3 separate regions of the Homo sapiens genome follow, and regions 1 and 3 are each linked to region 2. The links come from fine-mapping of genetic effects on gene expression. A gene starts in region 2. Each other region holds a variant in brackets. All regions are shown on one strand. Distances are from middle to middle.

Region 1 (8,469 bases), 21 kb before region 2:
TCTTTTTTCGGAGGTGCCCAGATTTCATATTGTTCAAACACACGTGCTCTACAAACAATTTGTGCAGTTAACGCAATCATCACAGGGTCCTGAGGCAACATACATCCTTCTCAGCTTACGAAGATGACGGAATTAAGAGATTAAAGACAGGCATAGGAAATCACAAGGGTATTGATTGGGGAAGTGAAAAGTGTCCATGAAATCTTCACAATTTATGTTCAGAGATTGAAGTAAAGACAGGCATAAGAAATTATAAAAGTATTAATTTGGGGAACTAATAAATGTCCATGAAATCTTCACAATTTATGTTCTTCTGCCGTGGCTTCAGCCGGTCCCTCCATTCGGGGTTCCTGACTTCCCACAACACAGGCTGGAGTGCAATGGCATGATCTCAGCTCGCTGCAACCTCCACCTCCCGGGTTCAAGCAATTCTCCTGCCTCATCCTCCCAAGTAGCTGGGATTACAGGTGCCTGCCACCACGCCTGGCTAATTTTTGTATTTTTAGTAGAGATGGCGTTTCACCATGTTGGCCAGGCTGATCTTGAACTCCTGACCTCAGGTGATCTGCCCACCTCGGCCTCCCAAAGTGCTGGAATTACAGGCATGAGCCACTGCACCCAGCCTCTGTGAGTATTTTTAACTTGTGGTAATATAGTTGTTTGCATCAGTGCAGTAAGAATCCATTTTCTTTTGCAACAGGATGCAACTGGAGAAACTGGTTGTTTTACCAAGGCTTTGAGTGCAAGGGTATGCTTCCCTTTAAGCAGTCAAGCTCGAGTTGCAGAGCCAAAAAAATCCCCTTGGGGAGAAAACTGGCTTCATACCCTTGCCTACACAGTCCCTGTACAGGGTTCCTGACCTGTGGTCAGTAAAGAATGTCACTTTCCTTTTTTTTTTTGAGACAGAGTCTTGCTCTGTCGCCCAGACTGGCGTGCAGTGGCATGATCTTGGCTCACTGCAGCCTCTGCCTCCCAGGTTCAAGCTATTCTCCTGCCTCAGCCTCCTGAGTAGCTGGGACTACAGGCATGTGGCACCACACCCGGCTAATTTTTTTTTTTTTTGTATTTTTGGCAGAGATGGGGTTTCACCATGTTAGCCAGGATGGTCTGGATCTCCTGACCTCGTGATCCGCCTGCCTTGGCCTCCCAAAGTGCTGGGATTACAGGTGTGAGCCACCATGCCCAGCCAAGAGTGTCACTTTCTAACTGGCCCAGAGTTCCAAGTTTATCTTGGGACCTTAAGAGAAGAGGAGCACTCAACTCACAGGTATTTAAGGATACAGACCCATGGCTGGGCTCGGCTTTAAAAGGTCTTCTCTAAGAGTCCTTGTGGAAAAGAGTTGCATCAAAGCCAATCTAAAAGGCCTATGTAGAAATAGTTATTCTTGCTGCACTTTATGCAACTAATCAGGCCAAGTATAAGACTAAAGTCTATTTTGCAAACAACTCAGTCCTATCATGATTTTTTAACAGAAATGAGAACTGGTAACAAAAGAAAAATTGAAAAATAAAAATAAAAATAAATGAGAACTGCAGAGAAAGAAATTATGTTTCAAAACGTATACATTTGTCATTAAATTCTGTTTGTTTGTTTGTTTGTTTTTTGAGACAGTCTCGCTCTGTTGCCAGGCTGGAGTGCAGTGGTGCGATCTTGGCTCACTGCAACCTCCTCCTCCAGGGTTCAAGCAATCCTCCTGCCTCAGCCTCCTGAGTAGCTGGGACTACAGGCGTACACCACCATAGCTAATTTTTGTATTTTTAGTAGAGATGGGGTTTCACCATGTTGACTAGGATGGTCTCAATCTCTTGACCTCATGATCCACCTGCCTTGGCCTCCCAAAGTGCTGGGATTACAGGCGTGAGCCACCGCACCCGACTTCATTTGTCATTAAATTCTAAACTAATTAGTTGTTTTTAAGTCTTTGCCTGCATTTTAGACTAACCCTGCTTGTTCCTGTGAACCAACCAGCAATCTCCAGCTACAGCTCAGAAAGAACAAAAGGGATGGGTAATGTAGAAATCTGGATCAATATTCTTGTTCTGAGCAATTATACATCAAATCCTGCCAGGCAATGGGAATAAATAGGGTGCCCATCACCTGGGGGTTTCCTTTTTGGGAAAGCAAGACCAAGGGAGCTAACCAAAGCCAAGCACCATGCACCCAAATCCTAGCAAGCATAACTATAGCCACCAGTTATCTGGGTGTGTCACAAGACAACCTTTTCTTTCCCTTGTTGGGGGAGGACTCAATTCCACAGCTTCACTTTAGCATTTGGCTTATGATAAGGAGTCCGTGCAACTCCCTCCAAGACACATTTTTGTCTCAAACTCAATTCCAAGCTTTGGGTCAAAGCCCTAGGAAAGAAGACTGGATCTGAGGGATCCAGAGGCAGAAGATAATGGAAGTTAAAAGGCACAGCACAGGTGAGCGTGGCTGACTCCTGCCAATTAAGCTAAGCTTTCTGTTTCATGGATAAAAGTCATGCTAGTATCCATGGCGTAAATGAAGTCTAGGGAATTCACGGCTACTTACAGCAGGGGAGATAAGGCGTATGTGAGTAGAGTGAATAATTCCCTCCCCCAGCCCCGCTAGTTAACATGGGTAAAAGCCTCTTTAACACCCATGGGTGGCATGCTGTTGCATTCGCCAGGACTCAGGGATACAAGGATGGTGGAAAGAAAGAGGAATGCCTCACTTTCCCTCCCTCACATACCCCAGGTATTTGGTAGGAAGAGAAAGGAACTAGGGGCGCCTGCTTGCCCCTTTCTAGATGAGTAGCCATTCACCTTCAGTTTGTACTCCTTTTGAATGCATCTTGAACTCCTGGGACTCCTTTGAAAAAACACCTTTTTTTTCTCCCCTCAGATAATCCTCCAAATTGAGAAAGAGTTAATTTCCCGAACCTTAAACTGGCTAACTTAGAATTGGGCTCAGAGGAAGGGAACCCAGAAGCCTGACATGCCAGCAAAAGGGTAAAAGTTTTTTTTACCAATTGGGCTTTTGGCCTCCCTCTCCCCATACAAACTGGTAAAAGGCCTCATGATTTTTCACCTGTCCTTACCCTTGTTTTGGTTTGATACATGTTTTCTAATAACCCAGTTTGTCTCTTCTCAGCTTCAGGCCATCAAACTCCAAACAGACATGCAACCAGAGCCTTGGACAATGGCCCCTTCTGCAGGGGACCCTAATATAGGCCTCTGAGGGAGATCTGACTGCCGTCTTCCCAAAACAGCACCCCCTGTCAGCAGGAAGCAGTTAAGATTGGTCTTTGTCCTTAGCCTCACTCTAAGAGCAGTTAGATGTACTTCTTTAGACGGGGGAATGAGACAGCCAAGTATAAAGGGGTTCCCAGAGAAC[A/C]TCTGACTGGCCTGCGCACTGGGAGAATGGGGTGGAGCCATGGAAGTTCATGCTGTTTGCAGTGGGGAGGAGCCTGGCCCCTCCTGTTCCTGTGTGGAACCTGGGATTCAATCTGTGAGATGAGGGCCTGTTAACAGGAACCCCTCTCTTGCTTTGCTGTGTTGTTTTTCCTTTTTCCCCAATAAATTCCATCCCCCTCACCCCTCAAAGTTTCTGCGAGCCTAATCTTTCCTGTTCATGTGACAAGAACCTGGATTTTCCTACAACCACAGTGATTAGACAAAGATGTCTGTTGCTAATTTTTCAGGTAAGTTGTTAACAACAACAAAATAGACATTTGCTATAGAGAATGTTAATGTTAGGCAGGGTGAGATGTTTAAGTCAAGACTAATTTCTGAACAGTCTGGAAACGAAATAAAGTAATCCCATTTACAACAGCTACAAATAAAACCAAATATCTAGGAATGAGCTTAACCAAAGAAAAAATCTCTATAATGAAAACTATAAAACACTGACAAAATAAATTGAAGAGGACACAAAAAAATGGAAAGATATTCCATGTTCATGAATTGGAAGAATCAATATTGTTAAAATGTCCATACTACTGAAAGCAATCTACAGATTCAATGCAATCACTATCAAAATATCAATGACATTCTTTACAGAAATGGAAAAGACAATCATAAAATTTATATGGAACCACAAAAGACCCAGAATAGCCAAAGCTATACTAAGCAAAAAGAACAAAACTGAAGGAATCACATTATCTTACTTCAAATTTTGTTACAGAGCTATAGTAACCAAAACAGCATGGTACTGGCATAAAAACAGACATATAGACCAATGGAACAGAATAGAGGACTCAGAAACAAATCCACACACCTGCAGTGAACTCATTGTCAACAAACGTGCCAAGAACACATACTGGGGAAAAGACAGTCTCTTCAATAAATGGTGCTGGGAAAACAGGATATCCATATGCAGAAGAATGAAACTAGACCCCTATCTCTCACCATATACAAAAATTAAATCAAAATGAATTAAAGACTTAAATCTAAGACCTCGAAATATGAAACAACTGCAAGAAAACACCGGAGAAACTCTCCAGGACATTGATCTGTGTAAAAATTTCTTGAGTAATACCCCACAAGCACAGGCAACCAAAGTAAAAATGGACAAATGGGATCACATCTAGTTAAAAAGCTTCTGTACAGCAAAGGAAACAATCATTAAAGTGAAGAGATAACCCACAGAATGGGAGAAAATATTTGCAAACTATCTCTCTGACAAAGGATTAATAACCAGAGTATATAAGGAAGTCAAACAACTCTATGGGAAAAAATATAATCCAGTGAAAATACACAAAACATTTGAATAGACATTTCTCAAAAGAAGACATACAAATGGAAAACAGGCATATGAAAAGGTGCTCAACATCACGGATCATCAGAAAAATGCAAGTTAAAGCTACAATGAGATATCATCTCACCCCAGTTCAAACGGCTTTTATCCAAAAGACAGGCAATAACAAATGCTGGAGAGGATGTGGAGAAAAGAGAACCCTCAAACACTGTTGGTGGGAATGTAAATTAGTGCAACCACTATGGAGAACATTTTAGAGGTTTCTCAAAAAACTAAAAATAGAGCTACGATATGATCCAGCAATCTCACTGCTGAGTATATACCCAAAAGAAAGGAAATGAGTGTATCAGAGAGATCTGCACTTCCATGTTTGTTGCAGCACTGTTCACAAAGATTTGGAAGCGGCTGGGTGTAGTGGCTCACACGTGTAATCCCAACACTTTGGGAGGCCAAGAATTTAGGAGTCTTGAACCTAGGAGTTCAAAATCAGCCTGGGAGGGCTGACGCCTATAATCCCAGTACTTTGGGAGGCTGAGGCGGGCAGATCACTTGAGGTCAGGAGTTCAAGACCAGCCTGGCCAACACGGGGAAACCCCATCCCTACCAAAAATACAAAAAATTAGCCAGGTGTCATGGCGGGGACTTGTAATCCCAGCTACTCAGGAGGCTGAGGCAGGAGAATCGCTTGAACCAAGGAGGCGGAGGTTGCAGTGAGCCGAGATGGCGCCACTGCACTCCAGCCTGGGTGACAGAGCAAGACTCCATCACAAAACAAACAAACAAAAAACAGCCTGGGCAACATAAGGAGACCTAATCTCTATAAAAATTTAAAATTTTTGTATACTACAGCCTCGGTGACAGAGACCTCAATTCAAAAAATAAATAATAGAAATCTCAACAGTCTTTTAGGCCTTCCAATCATCAGTTCCTACCAATGCCAGCATTGTTTTATGCCATCGCCTCTACCACCAGGTCCCCCTTACTTTTAGTTGCTGTCCTACAAGTCTTCTTTAGGCTTTTCCAGCAGCGTCTTCCAGTTTCAAGACTTTTCCCTAAGCTGTCCAATTTGTATGGAATGCTGTTCCCACTCTTACCTCCTTTAACTAATTAATCCCTATTCATCTTTCAGATCTTAGCTGATTAAATAAGTAGGCTACTCGCCCTGCACTTCTCATAACACTTCTTCCGACTGTAATTAAACTAATTATGCAATTACTTAGTCTGTCTCCTCAAGTAGGCTGTAGGGACTTATGTGTCTTGGTTATAGCTATATCCCCAGGGCTTAGCATCATGCCTAACCCATAAGTACCCAATAAATACTTCTTGAACAAAGAGCAATGGTTTGGGAAAGTAAAGAGTTTCGTGTGACTGGAGGTTAGAGAGATTTGCCATAAACCTTCCTAAAACCTGTTTATCAGTGGTCTCTGGTGCCCACCAATAAAAAGTGCATAAGATAGGGCCTTAGGGGCCGAGTGACAAGGTCTGGGCAGGACTGTTGCCTCCTGCAGGTCACCTATGCACACTGACTATAGTGTCTGATGGAGAAAGCCCCTGTCCCCACCTTTTGTGATTTTGCAAGCTAGGATTCCCTAACTTCTTAATGTAAGTCGCTTGGACTCTTCAAATTACTAAACCTAGGCACTGGTCAGGACAGGGGGATGGAAACTTAAGGCCCAGGTCCAGCACTGCCTTGAAACCAACGGACAATCATTGCCCTGATCGCTCACTCCTGAGGTGGCCAATTTGAGGCATTCTTGAGAAGACTCCAGGGAAGCATGCAGTGCTTAAGATGTGCCAGTAGATGGCGCTACTTCCCAACGTGCCTAATGCAAGGATACAGAATTACTCAGCCTCCTCACAGGTTCCTCCAGAACCAGGATATGAATATTTGGGCTTCAAGGGCAGGTCACATCCAGCAGCCCGAGGTCTGTCATCCCTGAGGGAAACAGCCTCCATCTCAGGCCTGACCAGGCAAATAAGACAAGCAAGCAATATGGATGCTCCAATGGCTTTATTAACTCCCTCTTTCCGTTGTGGCAGGACCTCATTAGCTGCAGAGCTGGAAGGGAGGCCAAGAAGCTGTGGTCTCAGTACGGGTCATTAAAGGGGTACAGAGGATGCCCTGCATCCCTTGGGACTCTCTTCCCATCCACCTGGAAAGAGAGACAGATAGATTACTCCATCAGCAGGAGTTGCCATTCCAAAGACTCCAGGCATCTTCCCCAAATCTTCCTAAACAAACTCACCTGTGTACAGCACTATGCCAGATGGCATTGGCTGGGATCCCCATCCTCAGAGAACACCACAGTATCAACACCATTCTAGCACCAAACCCATAGCCTGATATGTAGCTACCCCTGCCCCTAAGAGTTTGCAGTCTGAACTGAGATCAAGAGGCCAGGAACCATTTATTTCCCTAAGTACAGCCGACTTCCCTCCCAACCCCAATCCCTCGAGTGAGGTCAACAACGCCTTCTGGGCTCTCCTCATATCATTTACTGAGAATCTACTACATGTCAGGAACTGGGCTCATTTTACACATAGGAAGCTGAGGCTTGGAGAAGTTTAATAACTTGCTCTAGGTTACAAGATATCAAGAAGCAGGACTGGGACTCACAGGTTATATGCCTTATCCCTGAGCCATACTACTTCCCTGAGCTCAATAAAGAGAAATGAGGGCACTATGTCCAGCATAGCAATCCCACCCACAACATTGTGTCCTTCTCACAACCAGCAAGCCTTAGGTCACACCTGGGCCAGAATCCCACCCCAAATCTCACATTCCCCAAGTCTAGGAGGCTGATACATCCTCACCGTAAGCATAGGCACAATATATCTCCAATTTTTGTTCAGGGCATTTAGCTGCTTCATCTCTTCTGGGCTAAAGGTGAAGTCAAACACCTGAGGATGGAGAGTGGGGTTCAAGAAAGCCAGCTTTGTGAGCAGAAGCTGGGGTTCCACAACACTGCCTTTTTAGCCAGGTAGAGTCAGGGCCAAGAAAATGTCCCAAAGAGCTAAAGAAGATAGAACCCATTACCAAGTACCTTGATGTTCTGAAGGATTCGAGAAGGAGTGATACTTTTGGGGATGCAGATCACTTTCCGCTGGACCTGCCACCTAAGTTGGGGGATTAGACAGATGAGGAAAAGGGGTCAGTATTCATAAGCACTATTTTGTTCCCCATGCAGCTTCCCTAAGCTCCTGGAGCACCTGAGCCCTGCTGAAATGGGAAATATGCCTACAGTGGCCTCCCTCCAGATCACAAGGCAAGATCCTCAGCCTCACCCAGACACTGAAATAAGAAATCCCTTAACCCTTGCCTCCCAACCCAGGGCCCTCTCCCTAAGACTGCCCCATACCTGAGCAAGATCTGAGCTGGAGATCGGCCATACTTTTCAGCCAATGCCAGGACTACTGGTTCCTCCAGCAGGACAGGCTCATCAGGATCACGCCATGCACGATCAGAGGAGCCCAAAGGGCTATAAGCAGTTACCTCCAGGCCACGTGCTTGGCAGTGGGCAATTAGCTCATTTTGAGCCAAGTATGGGTGGCATTCCACCTGAGCCAAAGAATAACCCATCACCATGAAGTGGTGACACCCAGCTTGCTTGGCCCATCCCAGACATGCATGTCTGGACCACCCCCTATTGCTGACTCCTCCACTCCCCTTCAGCCTGCTTTTCTCACCATTTCCCATCGGCAATTTCATTCTCTCCCACTGCTTCAATGCCCACCTTTATGCAGAGGAC
Region 2 (8,469 bases):
CCGCAACCTCCGCCTCCTGGGTTCAAGTGATTCTCCTGCCTCAGACTCCCGAGTAGCTGGGATTACAGGCATGCGCCACCACGCCTGGCTAATTTTGTATTTTTAGTAGAGACAGGGTTTCTCCATGTTGGTCAGGCTGGTCTCGAACTCCCGACCTCAGGTGATCCACCCACCTTGGCCTCCCAAAATGCTGGGATTACAGGCGTGAGCTACCACGCCCGGCCTATACTGTATTTTTTTATTTGAATTTTTAAAGTTGGTTTTTGTTCCCAAGTATTTTTGATTCTAGGTTGAATCCGCAGATGCACAACTTGTGGATAGAGTGTTGACTTTGTACTCTATCTCACCAAAAGACCAAAGCCCTGGATAACAAGTGTTAAAGCAAACCAGACAACATGTTGATAGTATAATCCATTTGGGCCTTAAAAAAAAACATCTGGTTGCGTGTGGTGGCTCATGCCTGTTAATCCCAGCACTTTGGGAGGCTGAGGCAAGCAGATTGCTTGAGTCCAGGAGTTCGAGACCAGCCTGGGGGACATGGCAAAACTTAATCTCTACAAAAAATATGAAAATTAGCCAGGCATAGTGATGTGTCTCTATGGTCCTAGCTACTCAGGGGGCTGAGGCAGGAGGATCCCTTGAGCCTGGGGGGCAGAGGTTGCAATGAGCTGAAATCACACCACTGCACTCCAGCTTGGGCCACAGACTGAAACCCTGTCTAAAAAATAAATAAATAAAAGCCATCTAAAGAAAGTATTTGTAGTTCCTTGCAGGCATTTATGAGTATTATCAGATTATGGTTTTGATAAGTAGTTGGTGAGGAGAGTATTTTCTCCTGTACTTTTCTTTTTGAGACAGGGTCTCACTCTGTTGCCCAGGCTGGAGTGCAGTGGCCCATTCATGGCTCATTGCAGCTTCGAACTCCTGGACTGGAGCAATCCCGAGTAGCTGGGACTACAGGCACATGTCACCACACCCAGCTTATTTATTTACTTATTTATTGAGACAGAGTCTCGCTCTAACGTCCAGGCTGGAGGGCAGTGGTGTGATCTCAGCTCACTGCAAACTCCACCTCCCAAGCTCAAGCTATCCTTTCCATTCAGCCTCCCAGGTAGCTGGGACTAGAAGCATGGGCCACGATGTCCAGCTCATTTTTTGTGTTTTTCGTAGAGACAGGGTTTCTCCTTGTTGCCCAGGCTGGTCTGAAACTCCTGGGCTCAAGTGGTCCTTCTGCCTCAGCCTCCCAAAGTGCTGGGATTATAAGTGTGAGCCACTATGCCTGGCCTTATTTTTCTTTTGTAGAGATAGGGTCTCACTGTGTTGCCCCCTCAAACTTCTAGCCTCAAGTGACCCTCCCACCTTGGCCTCCTAAAGTGCTGGGATTACAGGTGTGAGCCACCACACCTGGCTTTCTCCTATACTTCTTTTTTTTTTTGAGACGGAGTCTCGCTCTGTCACCCAGGCTGGAGGGCAGTGGCGTGATCTCGGCTCACTGCAAGCTCCGCCTCCCGGGTTCATGCCATTCTCCTGCCTCAGCCTCCCGAGTAGCTGGGACTACAGGTGCCCGCTACCATGCCCAGCTAATTTTTTTGTATTTTTTAGTAGAGACAGGGTTTCACCATGTTAACCAGGATGGTCTCGATCTCCTGACCTCGTGATCCGCCCACCTCAGCCTCCCAAAGTGCTGGGATTACAGGCATGAGCCACCACACCCGGCCTCTCCTATACTTCTAGAAAAGCCAGCTTGGAAAATCACCTTACATATGTAATGTTGGCCAGATTTTGTCAGTTTAGCTGGGTTTTAAATCTTGTTAATACTTAATAGCTACAGAAAAAGAGAATGCTCTAATATGTAACCTAAGACCTAAGATTGCAATAATGCTTCCTGTACTTCTTGATGTATGTGAAAAGAATTTTAAAATATATATTCCTAAATCTTTCTCTAGTCCATCCATATCTACCTCCACTGCCACTGCCCCATCTCTGACCACCACCACTCTTTTTTTTTTGAGACAGAGTCTCGCTCTGTCGCCAGGCTGGAGTACAGTGGTGTGATCTCGGCTCACTACAACCTTCGCCTTCCAGGTTCAACCGATTCTCCTGCCTCAGCCTCCCCAGTAGTTGGGACTACAGGCGCATGCCACCACACCCAGCTAATTTTTGTATTTTTAGTAGAGACGGGGTTTCACCATGTTGGCCAGGATGGTCTCCATCTCTTGACCTCGTGATCTGCCCGCCTCAGCCTCCCGAAGTGCTGGTATTATAGGCATAAGCCACTGTGCCCAGCCTTTTTAAATTTTTTTTTGAGACAGAGTCTCACTCTGTTGCCCAGGCTGGAATGCAGTGGCATGATCTCGGCTCACTGCAATCTCTGCTTCCCGGGTTCAAGTGATTCTCCTGCCTCAGCCTCCCCAGTAGCTGGGATTATAGGTGTGTGCCACCACACCCAGCTACTTTTTGTATTTTTAGTACGGAGAGGGTTTCACCATGTTGGCCAGGCTGGTCTCGAACTCCTGACCTCAGGTGATCCACCCACCTTGGCCTCCCAAAGTGCTGGGATTACAGGCATGAGCCACTGTGCCCAGCTGACCATCACTCTTTACTTAAACCACAGATCTTGGCTTCCAGAGTGGTCCCTCTTCCCGCAGTCCATCACCAGATCCAACCATGTGACTCCCAGTCTCAAACCCTTCCAGCAATTCTCCCCTATATTCAGGATAAAGTCCAGGCTTCTCAAAACCTGGCTTCTATCTTTCTCATTTCACCACCTCCTCATGTCAGACTGTATTCCAGACTTTGAACACTCAACAGGGTCACATCACTTACCTGACTCTAGGTGTGTGCACTTTCCTTCCCCAAACCCTACCTTTGCCTGGCTAGCTGCTGCTCATCCTTCAGCTAGCACTTCACATTTCTGGCTCCTTTCCAGGTGCAGTGGCTCATACATGTAATCTCAGCACCTGGGCAGGCTGAGGCGGGAGGATCACTTGAAACCTGGGCAACAAAAGGAAACACTGTCTCTACAAAAATTTGTTTTTTTCTTTCTGAGTCTGCTTGCTAGGGGGAATTTTTTTTTTTTTATTTTAAAGATTAACTGGGCACAGTGGCATGTAGTTTATAGTCCAAAGGCTGAGGTGGCAGGATTATTTGAGCCCAGAAGTTTGAGGCTGCACTGAGCAAGGATTCCACCACTACACTCCAGCATGGGCAAAAGACCGAGAGACCCCCATCCATCTCTAAAAAGAAAATAAATAAATAAATAAATGGATGGCTACTTCCATGTACTGATAGCATGTGCACATCACTACATTTTTCTGTTTATATATAAATTTCCCCCACAAACCTGGCTACTCCTTGAGGTCTGAGCCTGTCATCTGCCTGAACCCCTCACTCCTAGAGTACCTGTCCCATACATACATACATACATACATACATACATACATACATACAATGTACACAATACACACACCACACACACACAGCTTATGGGGGAGAGATCTTGACAGGTTGAGTTTGGCCAGCTGGAAGGACATTTGAGGAAGTCGCTGCCTCTGTCACCTTCTTCCTTTACCTGTTGGAAAACCTGAAAAGAATCCTCTTGGAGAATATCAAAGCACTTTACTATACTCGGCAAAAAATCCCAGTGGACCAGATAGAATCATACTGAGATTGCTCCTGTATTAAAGATAAGGAAACAGATCTTGGAAAAGTAACAGGCCTGCAGCCCTGAGTATGAACGATCTGAAGGGGAAGAGTTAATTAACAGTAGCCTCATCCAGTGAAGGTTCAGATCTGTGTCTTACTTTAACAGAGTTCTGGGGCAACAGAATAACATGTCAGACTTTCTCAGACCCAAAGCAGGTGTCTAAGTAAGAGAATTATCCCCACTTCTCCCCACTTCTGAGAACTATCCCTGCACCTGCATAAGAAAGCCGGAGCAGCTGGAAAAAGCACATAGGTGAGCAAACAAAAAGATGGCAATTAAAACTTGCAGATCACCTAGTATGCGCTGTGCGCCTTCAAAGCTTTATCTCAATTCTTGCTACAGTTCTAATGTAGGACCTCATTTTATTGCTGAGGAAACAGGTTCAGAGAAACTGGGAAGTTAGCAAGAGATCATACAGAGAAAAAGAAGAGCTCAAATCCGAAACCAAGTCTCGTCCCCTCCAGTGCTCTGCGCTCTCCACTCAACCCCAGGGGCTTACATTTCAGTAGTAAAGAATCGAGGCCATCTCCTCCGGGAGAAAGATAGGCCAGCAGCAAGAGAAACTCACCTTGGCACAAGCACAGAGCGTGAATAGGGTACTGTGGCCTGGGCTCAGTTCTGCACCCCGCCAGAGATCCAACGATCCTCAGCTTAAGTCTGGCGGTGAGGGGGAAGTTCCACCCGGAGGGAGGGGCAGGGGCCGGGCATAAAGGATCACGCGCAGGGTGGACCGCCTTCGCCGCCTCCCGAGGAAGGACCTGAAGGGGATGGAAAACAGAGCTGGGAGGTAGTACCGTCTCCACCTCTGGATCCTCGAGGTCGAACTGGCCGGAACTTGGTCACTCACTCCGCAGCGCGGGTTTGGAGAACTCCTGGGCACAATGAGGCAGGTGGCGCTGGCCACGTGGGCGGTGCAAGGGGCGGGGCCAGCCTCGCCTTTTGCTGGCCCACATTGCACCGCGCGCCTAGGCGCCGCCGCAGGCGCTTTTCCGGGGGAAGTAAGGTAGCAGATGCCACGTTGCAGGTTCTTCTGGTGTCGGCCCTCCGGATTCACAATGCCATCCGTGGCTCCATACTCTCCCTAAAGTCAGGTTGGCTGGATTCCCAAAGTTCACCTAAGTTGGCCCCGTTACATTTAGTTCAAGCAAACTGAGGCCCAGAGAGCAGCTGCAACACCAAGATTGGCCAGAATACAGAAGACCTCGCGTCTGCAGATCCAGGCGCTGGAAAGTGCCTGGTCCCCCTGTCTGGACCATAGACCCCGCCCAGCACGTTATGTGCCAGGCACTGTGCTTAACACTTAATAAACATGGTTTTATTGAATCTTCATAATAATCCTGGAAAAGGAATATTCCTTTTTTTTTTTTTTTTTTGAGACGGAATCTCGCTCTCGCCCAGGCTGGAGTGCAGTGGCGCGATCTTGGCTCACTGCAACCTCCGCCTCCCTGGTTCAAGCAATTCTCTGCCTCAGCCTCCCGAGTAGCTGGGATTACAGGCGCCCGATACCACGCCTGGCTAATTTTTTTGTATTTTTTAGTAGAGACGGGGTTTCGCCATCTTGGCCAGGCTGGTCTTGAACTCCTGACCTCGTGATCCACCCGCCCTGGACTCCCAAAGTGCTGGGATTACAGGAGTGAGCCACTGCGCCTGGCCGAAAAGGAATATTCTTTTATTTCGTACAAGCCTTTTTAAAAATCGTAGTATAGCATATATACAGAAAATACACCAGTCTTTTTTTTTTTCTTTTTCTTTTTTTCCTATTCTACATCCAGGAAGAAAGAAAATGTATAAATCTTAAATGTATACAGTTCTTTTTTTTAAATTATTTTTTGCAATGTAACTGCCATCCAGAGGAAGATATTACCAGCACACCATAAGCCTGTGAGGAAAGTATTCATAATCCATTTTACAGATTGGACAGACTCAGCAAGGTTAAGGCTATTTATAATTTTCCCAAAGTCACACAGGTATTAATTAAATGACACATCTGCGATTTGAAATAGTCTGTGCTGTTTGAGTGGAGAGGTGTCTTGCATGTATGTGTTTTCCTTGGCAGGGATGGGCAAGACACAGGGTTATCTCGGTTTGGCTCTGCTTTTCCCCACACCTTTACTCCCTGAGAGCAACTCTTCCCATTTCCCCACCCCCGTTATCCCCCACTGTCTCCCCAACATAAGTGATGTCCTGGTGGACCAAATGTCTAATGTATCAGGCCATCCTCATAAAAACAATCAGACTTGGCCGGGTGCGGTGGCTCACGCCTGTAATTCCAGCACTCTGGGAGGCCGAGGCAGGCGGATCACCTGAGGTCAGGAGTTAGAGACCAGCCTGACCAACATGGAGAATCCCCGTCTCTATTAAAAATACAAAATTAGCCGGGCGTGGTGGCACATGCCTGTAATCCCAGCTACTCGGGAGGCTGAGGCAGGAGAATTGCTTGAACCTGGGAGGCGGAGGTTGTGGTGAGCTGAGATTGCGCCATTGCGCTCCAGCCTGGGCAACAAGAGTGAAACTCCATCTCAAAAAAAAAAAAAAAAAAAATTCAGCTAGGCGTCGTGGCGCGCACCTGTAGTCCCAGATACTCAGGACGCTGAGGCAGGAGAATCGCTTGAACCCGGGAGGCGGAGGTTTCAGTGAGCCGAGATCGAGCCACTGCACTCTAGCCTCTTGACAAAGCGAGACTGCCCCTCAAAAAAAAAAAAAAAAAAAAAAAAAAAAAAAAATTAGCTGGATGTATTGATGCGAGCCTGTAATCCCAGCTACTTGGGAGCCTGAGGCAACAGAATCACTTGAACCAGGGAGGCGGAGGTTGCAGTGAGCTGAGATCGCGCCACTGCACTCCAGCCTGTATTCAAAAAAAAATAAAATAGGCCAGGCATGGTGGCTCACGCCTGTAATCCCAGCACTTTGGGAGGCCGAGGTAGGCAGATCACCTGAGGTGAGGAGTTCGAGACCAGCCTGACCAACATGGAGAACCCCCATCTCTACTAAAAATACAAAATTAGCCAGGTGAGGTGGCACATCCCTGTAATCCCAGCTACTCAGGAGGCTGAGGCAGAAGAATCACTTGAACCCAGGAGGCAGAGGTTGCGTTTGGCAAGATTGTGCCATTGCACTCTAGCCTGGGCAGCAAGAGCAAAACTCTGTCTCAAAAAAAAAGGGGCCGGGCGCAGTAGCTCACGCCTGTAATCCCAGCACAAGGCGGGCAGATCACGAGGTCAAGAGTTCGAGACCAGCCTGGCCAATATGGTGAAACCCCGTCTTTACTAAAAATACAAAAATTAGCTGGGCATGGTGGCACGCGCCTGCAGTCCCAGCTACTCAGGAGGTTGAGGGAGGAGAATCGCCTGAACCCAGGAGGCAGAGGTTGCAGTGAGCCGCACCACTACACTCCAGCCTGGGTGACAGAGCAAGTCTCCGTCTCAAAAAAAAAAAAATACGTAAAAGAAGAACCTACAGGCCAGGCACAGTAGCTCATGGCTGTAATCCCGGCACTGTGGAAGACTAAGAAGGGAGGATCACTTGAGCCTAGTAGTTCAAGACCAGCCTGGGCAATATAGTGAAACCTCATCTCTACAAAAAATATAAAAATTAGCTGGGCACGGTGGTGCACACCTATAGTCCCAGGTGTTTAGGAGACTGAAGTGGGAGGATTGCTGGAGCCCAGGTCTTCGAGGCTGTAGTGTGTCATGATTGTGCCATTCTACTCCAGCCTAGACAACAGAGCAAAACCTTGTCTCTTTTTTTTTTTCCCCTCAAATTCTTTTTACCAAGGACCCTGTCTAAAAACAAACAGGCCAGGTGTGGTGGCTCACACCCGTAATCCCAGGACTTTGGGAGACCGAGGCGGGCCAATCACCTGAGGTCAGGAGTTCGAGGCCAGCCTGGCCAACATGGTGAAATCCCATCAATACTAAAAATACAAAAATTAGCTGGGCATGGTGGCAGGTGCCTGTAATCCCAGCTACTTGAGAGGCTGAGGCAGGAGAATTGCTTGAACCTGGGAGGCAGAGGTTGCAGTGAGCCGAGATGGTGCCACTGCACTCCAGTCTGGGCGACAGAGCAAGACTCCATCTCAAAAATAAATAATAATTTTTAAAAAACAAAAAAACAGAAGTGAGCAAATAAGAATATAAGAACAACCACTTTATTGAGCATCCACTACTTACCATAGTCTTTATATTCATGTTGTCTGATATCCACAGCAGAAACTTTTGGATTTGGTGGACATGAAGATCATTGGTGACCAATGTGGAGAGCTCCTTCAGTGGAATGGTTAATCCTGAGCCAGATGACCTGAATTCAGGAATGAACAGGAGATGAAGACATGGAGAATCAGAGGAAGGACTTCTCAAGGATACAGTAAAGGCCAGGGACAGTGGCTCATGCCTGTAATCCCAGCACTTTGGGAGGCCAAGGCAGGCAGATCACTTGAACCCAGGGGTTCTCAAGATCAGCCTGGGCAACATGGTGAAATCCCATCTCTACAAAAAATACAAAAATTAGCTGGGTATGGTAGCATGCACCTGTGTTCTCAGCTACTTGGGAAGCTGAGGTGGGAGGATCACCTGAGCCTGGGAGGCCAAGGCTGCAGTGAGCTGTGATCGCACCCACCACTACAAAGCCTAGGCAACTGAGTGAGACCCTGTCTCAAAAAAAAAAAAAAAAGTAAGAGGAAGAAAAGTTATGGGTTAATAGTGACTTGATGCAGATGGAGGGAGAGTTTTTCACTATGTGGGAAATGCGAGCATGACCACGTGCTA
Region 3 (8,469 bases), 730 kb before region 2:
ATGGTGTGAACCCGGGCGGCAGAGCTTGCAGTGTGCCGAGATCACGCCACTGGACTCCAGCCTGGGCGACAGAGTGAGACTCCGTCTAAAAAAAAATGAAGTTGGGATAAGGGGCTAGGTGCGGTGACTCACACCTGTAATCCTAGCACTTTGGGAGGCCAAGGCGGACGGAACACTTGAGGTCTAGAGTTCAAGACCAGCCTGGTCAATATGATGAAACATACAAAAATTAGCCAGGTGTGGTGGCGGGCGCCTGTAATCCCAGCTTCTCTGGAGGCTGAGGCACGAGAATCACTTGAACCTGGGAGGCAGAGGTTGCAGTGAGCTGAGATCACACCACTGCACTCCAGCCTAGGCTACAAAGTGAGACTCTATCTTAAAAAGAAAAAAAAAATTGGGATAAGGTTCTAGAAACAAACATGGAAGAACTTACAGGGGTGAGTGTTTCAGTGGAGACACTATAATAAAAGCATGGTCTCTGGAACCAGATTTCCAGGGTTCAAATAATCCAACCACTTACCTGTGTGGCCACCTCTTTGTGCCTCGGTTTTACCTGTAAAATAGGGCTAATAATAATACATACCTCAGAGATGTGAAGATTAAATGAATTTGTAGTGTTGCCTGACTCAGTAAATAGTGTGCTATTGGAAGAGAGGGAAATTTGGACAGTTTCATGGATATATCATGGCTGTCTGGCATGTTTTCTGCGTTTCAGAGTGTGACATGTTGGCGAGCCAAGTTTATGGAGGCCTTTTTTTCCCATGTTCTACGTGGGACCATTGATGTGTCTTCTGACAGGCGTCTTTGTGATCAGCGGTTCTCACCTCTTCTGCACAGCTCCCGCCATGTCCGACAGCTCACCATCTGTAACATGCTGCAGGGTGCAACCGAGCTGGTGGCTGAGCCCAACCGCAGGGTTCTGGAGACCCTGGCCAGCTCCCTGCACACTCTCAAGTTCCGCCACCTGCTGTTCTCTGATGTGGCTGCTCAGCAGTCACTTCGGCAGCTGTTGCATCAGCTCATTCACCATGGGGCTGTCAGTCAAGTGTCGCTATACTCCTGGCCTGTGCCTGAGTCAGCCCTTTTCATCCTTATTCTCACCATGAGTGCTGGCTTCTGGCAACCAGGGCCTGGTGGCCCACCCTGCCGCCTCTGTGGAGAGGCCTCCCGAGGCCGGGCCCCATCCCGAGATGAAGGGTCCCTCTTATTGGGCTCACGTCGGCCCCGCCGGGATGCTGCTGAGCGATGTGCTGCAGCCCTGATGGCCAGCCGGCGTAAGAGTGAAGCCAAGCAGATGCCCAGAGCTGCACCTGCCACTCGGGTAACACGCCGGAGCACACAGGAGAGCCTGACAGCAGGCGGAACAGACCTTAAGAGGGAGCTGCACCCCCCAGCCACCTCCCATGAGGCTCCTGGCACCAAGCGGTCACCTTCTGCTCCAGCAGCCACCTCCTCTGCCTCTTCTTCTACATCCTCATACAAACGGGCACCAGCTAGCTCAGCCCCACAGCCTAAGCCCCTAAAGCGTTTCAAGCGAGCTGCAGGGAAGAAGGGTGCTCGCACCCGTCAGGGGCCTGGTGCAGAGTCTGAAGACCTGTATGACTTCGTTTTTATTGTGGCTGGCGAGAAGGAGGATGGCGAAGAGATGGAGATTGGGGAAGTGGCTTGTGGAGCTTTGGATGGATCAGATCCCAGCTGCCTGGGGCTTCCAGCACTGGAAGCTTCACAAAGATTCCGCAGCATCTCCACCTTGGAGCTATTCACAGTTCCACTCTCCACAGAGGCAGCCCTGACACTATGCCACCTGCTGAGCTCCTGGGTGTCACTGGAGAGCCTCACACTCTCCTACAATGGTGAGCACCCTGGAGTGGCAGGGATTGGGCTTAGATTGCCTAGCAGCACCAGCTGTGTGCCTAATTCTAGGGAGGTGGGAGGGGCAAATTGGGGGTATGATCAGGAGGTTAGAGAGGAAGGCTTGTATGCCTCATAGCAGGGGAGACTGTCATTGCTAGAAGAGAGGAACATAAAGTCTATACACTTGATTAGTTGTTGAAAGCAGGGGTTCCTGAGGGGCAGTGAGACAAGCCAGCTGGAATCTGAAGAATGAATACATTTTAGATATGGAAGGCAGTCCAAGGGCAGGTGGGAGCAGTATAGTATATGCATGCTCAGGCAGGGCTAGAGTTTGACCTCACCACCTCACCAGTCATATCAGAGTAGCTGTCCAGACAAGGTGTGGGACACAATTTCTTATCAGACCAACAACCTGCAAAGCAGTCCTCAGTCCTCATTTCCCTCCTGCTTGTGACCAGCTAGCAAAACCTCAACTCTGGCTAAATCCAGCAATCCGCCTAGGTTGCTGAGCACTGCTAGAGACAAATCATACAACTATGCAAATCAGTGTTACTATATGATCACTAACCTCGTATGAACCTTCACTGTGCTTGCAACATCAGCTCCCATTCCTACCACTTCCAAACTCTCCTTTTCCCTTCTCAGGGATGACCTCACCTACTTCACAGAGAAAATAGAAGCCATCACACATGAGTTTCTTTAGCTTGCTAAGCAGCCTATAAACTCTCCATCTGCACTCATCCTTCTTTACCAGAATAGAAGAGACCACCATCCTTTCTAAGGCTAATTCTCCCACCTGTGCTCTAGATGCATAGAGCTTCACAACAAAGTATATAAAAATTACCAGTTTGAGAAACAAGCATTCTACCTTCTTAGGGAAGCTTGTTTCTCAAACTAATTTTTATATACTGCTTAGTATGTGTCTGGCATATTTTAAGTATTCTTGATAATTTGATCTAACAATCCTCACAACCCTATGAGGGCAAGTGACTTCCTCAGGATAACCTAGCAATTATAGAGCTAGGATTCAAAACCCAGGCAACCAGACTGCAGATTCATGCTTTCAAACAACTATGCTACTCTCCTTTCCACCGTCTCTCTCCTATCAGCATTTTAACAGGTCTCCATCAAAAACTGCCACCACCACCTCCCTCTATGCCATATTAATAAACTGTTATCTCCTGTTCTTCACAACCTTAGTTATCTGTACTGTTTCCACTTCTCTTACTCACAGCCCCTTCCAGCCTCTTATACCCCTACCACTGCACTGGCAAGGACCTATGTCATCAGGGTCCTCCTTGTTACTAGATCCAATGTATACTTTTCAGTAACTCTTCTTGGCAGGATTTACTGCTGTTCATTAAATTTTTTTTCACTACCTTAAAAAATGTTTTCTTGGCCGGGCGCAGTGGCTCACGCCCGTAATCCCAGCACTTTGGGAGGTCAAGGTGGGTGGATCACGAGGTCAGGAGTTCAAGACCAGCCTGGCCAAGATGGTGAAACCCCATCTCTACTAA[A/C]AATACAAAAATTAGCCAGGCGTGATGGTGGGCGCCTGTAATCCCAGCTACTCAGTGACTGGAGATCGTGCCACTGCACTACTGCACTTTAACCTGGGCAACAGAGTGAGACTCCATCTCAAAAAAAAAAAAAAAGTTTTCTCCTCCTCTGTTTATTCAGAGTTCCTCAGAGCTTTCCCACTTTATGCACGCTTCTTGGACAATTTCATCCATTCCTGTGGTTTCAAAGGCCAACTATGCTAAAGACTCCCCATTATGTGACATTACCCCAGATCTTTCTCTTGAACTTCCAGACCCATTTATCCAGCTAGTAGACATGACAACTTCATAACCCACAATACCCCACCCAACTCATTACATCCAACTTGAATGCATTTTTATATTTTTAGTAAGGACAGGGTTTCCCCATATAGGCCGGGCTGGTCTCGAACTCTTGGCCTCAAGTGATCCACCAACCTCGGCCTCCTACAGTGCTGAGATTATAGTCATGAGCCATTAAGCCCAGCCCTATCTTTACAATTTGTTAAATACATTTATTTCTCTATCTCCACATCCTTAATTCAAGCTACCATTACCCACTACCTGAACTAATTTCAGTAGTTCCTCCGGACTCCTTACTCTTGCCATACAAATCCATTATCTGCACTGCAGCCCAAGCATCCTTTGAAAAATGCAGTCTTGATTCTTTAAAAAAATCAGTCAAAAATGACCCTGTCATTCATTTATGCAAACACCCTTCAATGGCTTAATTTTACTTAGTGGTCATTCATATTCTTACTCCTGGTTATCTCTATAGTTGTATCTTTTTTTTTTTTTTTTTTGACAGGGAGTCTCTGTTGTCACCCAGGCTGGAGTGCAATGGTGCAATCTTGGCTTACTGCAACCTCCGCCTCTCGGGTCCAAGCAATTCTACTGACTCAGTAGCTGGGATTACAGGCACATGCCACCATGCCCAGCTAATTTTTGTATTTTTAGTAGAGACGGGGTTTCACTATGTTGGCCAGGCTGGTCTTGGGCTCCCGACCTCAGGTGATCTGCCTACCTCAGCCTCCCAAAGTGCTGGGATTATATAGGTGTGAGCCACCACACCTGGCCTATAGTTGTATCTTGAATGCTTCCCCCCTTCACACTCTCACACCAGCCATTATGAAATTTTTTTGTTCTCCTTCAGGCCTCTACATATGCCAAGTTGCCTCTGCCACAATCATTCTTCCTAAATTTTAGCCTGTCCCCTTTATGTTCTTTAGGACTTAGCTGGAGTGCCTTTACTGATGTAAGCTGGACTAGGTACTCATCCTTTGTAATTTCATAGTACTTTATTCCCCCAGTTCCCATCGCATTATCAAGCTATGTAAGAAAAAAAAGCAATGTGCTGCTCACTAGTGTCTAGCAAAAAACTTGATATTTAGTAGGCACTGGGTAGTTGAATGAATGAACAGGAGCCTGCATAGTCCAAGGAATTATTTGCCTGTGGCATTAAGCAACCAACCTTCCTGGATCCTAGTCCATGCTGTGGGATTTGGTTATCTTTTCCTGCCCCATTCCCACCCATTGATTCTTTTAAGTATCCCAGTTGGGTCACTGTCACTCTCCATAGTTTTTAGGTGCTCCCTATTGCGTCTAGGTTAAACCATCCCTTTGCCTTTCCATAATGTGGCCTCCAGTGCCCTGCCCTCTAGAGCTGTTTCCTGAGCCTCATGTAGCCAAACAAGCAAGCGTCTCATTCATGCCTTGCACTCTCCTAGCTGTGATTTTTTTTTTTTTTTTGAGACAGTCTTGCTTTTTCACCTAAGCCGGAGTGCAGTGGCGTGATCTCAGCTCACTGCAACCTCCGTCTCCTGGGTTCAAGTGATTCTCCTGCCTCAGCCTCCCGAGTAGCTGGGACTACAGGCATGTGCCACCCAGCCCAGCTAATTTCTGTATTTTTAGTAGAGACAGGGTTTCACCATGTTGGCCAGGCTGGTCTGGAACTCCTGGCCTCAAGTGATCTGCCCACCTTGGCCTCCCAAAGTGCTGGGATTACAGGCGTGAGCCACCGCTCCCGGCTAGCTGGGACTCTTGACTATGTCTTCTCCCTCTATCCAAAACTTCCTTCCTTCAAGGCCAGTTTCTTCAGAAAACTACTCAGAACCCAGAAATCCAGAGAACTGCTACTGTCTGTGCCTGTCATTCAGCTAGTAGCCACATGCTGCCTCACCATATTGTATCTTCTCAATTTTGTGACTCTGCCCTGACTGGTGCTTCTTGTGGGCATAACCCAAAACAGCAGACCTCAGTTTGCTGGTTACCTAAGGAAAAAGCAAGACATGGATGAGTAGTTAAGACAAATGGGTTTAAATAAGCTGAGCCAAAGCCCAAGAGATTTGCTAGTAACCAAAAGTATTTGGAGTTGTATTTGAATATATTACCCCTGCTGACACTCCCACATGGTTCTGACTTAATCTCTTTCTTGCCATAGGCCTGGGCTCTAACATCTTCCGCCTGCTAGACAGCCTGCGGGCCCTGTCAGGCCAGGCTGGATGTCGCCTCCGTGCCCTGCATCTCAGTGACCTGTTCTCACCACTGCCCATCCTGGAGCTGACACGTGCTATCGTGCGAGCACTGCCCCTGCTACGGGTCCTCTCTATTCGTGTTGACCACCCAAGCCAGCGGGACAACCCTGGTGTGCCAGGGAATGCAGGGCCCCCTAGCCACATAATAGGCGATGAGGAGATACCAGGTGAAGCACTGTGTGTGTGTTTGTGTGTGTGCACGCACGTGTATCCCCACACAAAGGTGCAGATGCATTCGTATGGGGAAAGGGGAAGGACCTCTTCTATCACTCATTCCTGGCTTATCTGGAACCTATCCCCCCTTTAGAGCCTACCACTAAGATACTCTTGAGCTAGACAGGGCCTAAACCACCATAAGACCAGCAGAGAGTGACCAAGGCAGCTTGGTCTCCAGAAAAGGAAAAGAACTGATCTTTAGACTGGATTAGTTCCCCTGCTGTATGTTCCCTTAGTTCTTGTATGTCTCCTATCCCACCACTCTGCATACTTTATTTGCTTGTGTCTGGGTAGCCTGTCTTCCTGGTCTAAAATTTCTACAAGGGCAAGGACTAAATCTCATATTTAGTGCTCAATTCCTAGAATCTAGCACAGTGCTGACATATGGTAGGCACTCAACGACAAGTGAATGAATAAATAATTTTTTAGATGAATCCCTTAAGAACAGGATGGGACCTGCTATGGGAGTGAGGTAGAGATGGCCAGCTGGAATCTTCTTTCCCCACCATATCCAGAAAACTGCCTGGAGCAGTTGGAGATGGGATTTCCACGGGGAGCCCAGCCAGCCCCACTGCTGTGCTCCGTTCTGAAGGCCTCGGGTTCTCTGCAGCAGCTGTCCCTGGATAGTGCCACCTTTGCCTCTCCCCAGGATTTTGGGCTTGTTTTGCAAACACTCAAAGGTAGGACCCAGCCAGAATGGTGAAGGGAGAGGAGTAGGTGGGGACCTAGCACTGTTCTCTAGGAAAGCTAAGGTCCATGGTCCATGGTCTCTGCCTCCTATCCAGAGTACAACCTAGCCCTGAAAAGACTGAGCTTCCATGACATGAATCTCGCTGACTGTCAGAGCGAGGTGCTCTTTTTGCTACAGAATCTGACTCTGCAAGGTAAGTTCCTTATTCAGAACCTGGACATTTCCTGGGTCTTCACTATGGTTCTGCCATAATCTGAGTGAGCAAACCACTGTTCCTTTCTTGGCCTTGTGTCCTCAGCTATAAAATGGATATAGAACCTGCATGATTTTCCTTCTAAAAGCCCCAACCTCAATTCCTCCTCTACTAAACATGAGAAATCGCTCTTTTAGAGTGCTTCACCCAAAAGTTGCTCTTACCTTTCAGAGGTGGACAAAATGGTGGTGGTGGGGCAAAATAAATGTACTGTGCCAGGCTCCCCTCATAGACTTTTCTCTGATCCCCACCCCCGCATAGAGGGTGGCCAGTGTTAGGGAAAGAAGGAAGTGAATGGAGAATTGTCCATGCAGAGAACCTTCTTATAGGGAACATTTAGGTTCAGTCTTTAGTTTGGATTCTGATTTAGTTCCAGCCTTGCTTGGAGTCTAGACAAATTCCTTCCTCTTTTTGGGCCTCTATAATGTTAATACCCCTTGCTAGGGCCAACTGGGGCAGGAGGGGCAGCACCAGTCCTAATGCAGCCATCAGAATTTACTATAATTTTTCTTGACAGAGATTACCTTCTCCTTCTGCCGTCTGTTTGAGAAGCGCCCAGCCCAATTTCTGCCTGAGATGGTTGCTGCTATGAAGGGCAACTCCACACTGAAGGGCCTCCGGCTGCCAGGGAACCGCCTGGGTGGGGGCCAGACCCTGGGGAGGGAGAGGGGAAAGGAGCTAGGCCTTTGACCTAAAAACTCACTGGATAAAGGCAAAGACCTCTCCACTGGGAACGTGGGAGTTGGAATACAGATATTTCTGTGCTGGGGCTTCAGGAACCAGCAGGGCTGGTTCTGCCAGCCATAGTTGGGTTGGGATACCCTTGTCCCCTGTTCTTGGGTGGAGGTGATAGGCGTTCTCCCCTTCTCTCCAGGGAATGCTGGCCTGCTGGCCTTGGCAGATGTTTTCTCAGAGGATTCATCCTCCTCTCTCTGTCAGCTGGACATCAGGTACATGAGGGGAGGGGCAAGACAAGGGATGGGGCTACAGAGATATAGACCAGGAATTCACTGCTTCCTGGATATCTAATCCATCTCACCCTACCAGTTCCAACTGCATCAAGCCAGATGGGCTTCTGGAGTTCGCCAAGCGGCTGGAGCGCTGGGGCCGTGGAGCCTTTGGTCACCTGCGCCTCTTCCAAAACTGGCTGGACCAGGATGCAGTCACAGCCAGGGAAGCCATCCGGCGGCTCCGGGCTACCTGCCATGTGGTTAGCGACTCATGGGACTCATCCCAGGCCTTCGCAGATTATGTTAGCACCATGTGATGGGGCCCGTACCTCACAGTCTCATGCTCGGTACCATCAGCTTGCAGGGGCTGAAGCATGGGCTGCCCAGAACCCCAACCACCAGTTCTATCTTTCTCTTTCTGTCACCTTTTTTCTCT

Alleles and levels. Alleles are on the strand shown, and positions count from the first base shown. SD is a standard deviation of normalised expression in the study named. Not every link is listed here.
For the expression in cerebellum of the gene that starts at base 4,604 in region 2, allele A in region 1 goes with a higher level than allele C (moderate effect, 0.71 SD a copy in GTEx).

The links. PIP is the estimated chance that this variant, and not a neighbour inherited with it, causes the effect.
Region 1: its variant is the best candidate, but not a certain one, in a credible set for the expression of AKR1A1 in cerebellum (GTEx, PIP 0.83).
Region 3: its variant is the best candidate, but not a certain one, in a credible set for the expression of AKR1A1 in whole blood (TOPMed, PIP 0.88).

The regions. Positions count from the first base shown.
Region 1 is chr1:45,568,295-45,576,763 of GRCh38, reverse strand. AKR1A1 (aldo-keto reductase family 1 member A1) reads right to left here. Exons shown (of 9, transcript NM_153326.3): 6 at 8,080-8,279; 7 at 7,765-7,837; 8 at 7,535-7,621; 9 at 6,715-6,873. The coding sequence ends at 6,808. Among named protein-coding and RNA genes, the nearest start is that of NASP, 12 kb to the left of the region's middle. The variant A/C (reference allele first, on the strand shown) is at 3,359.
Region 2 is chr1:45,546,961-45,555,429 of GRCh38, reverse strand. AKR1A1 (aldo-keto reductase family 1 member A1) reads right to left here and starts at 4,604. Exons shown (of 9, transcript NM_153326.3): 1 at 4,275-4,604. RefSeq lists enhancers at 4,132-4,351, 4,582-4,811, 4,862-4,921.
Region 3 is chr1:46,278,746-46,287,214 of GRCh38, reverse strand. It overlaps LRRC41 (leucine rich repeat containing 41), which reads left to right. Exons shown (of 10, transcript NM_006369.5): 4 at 716-1,853; 5 at 5,830-6,090; 6 at 6,655-6,819; 7 at 6,925-7,023; 8 at 7,601-7,723; 9 at 7,958-8,033; 10 at 8,131-8,469. The coding sequence ends at 8,350. Among named protein-coding and RNA genes, the nearest start is that of LRRC41, 21 kb to the left of the region's middle. RefSeq lists an enhancer at 1,307-1,931. The variant A/C (reference allele first, on the strand shown) is at 3,372.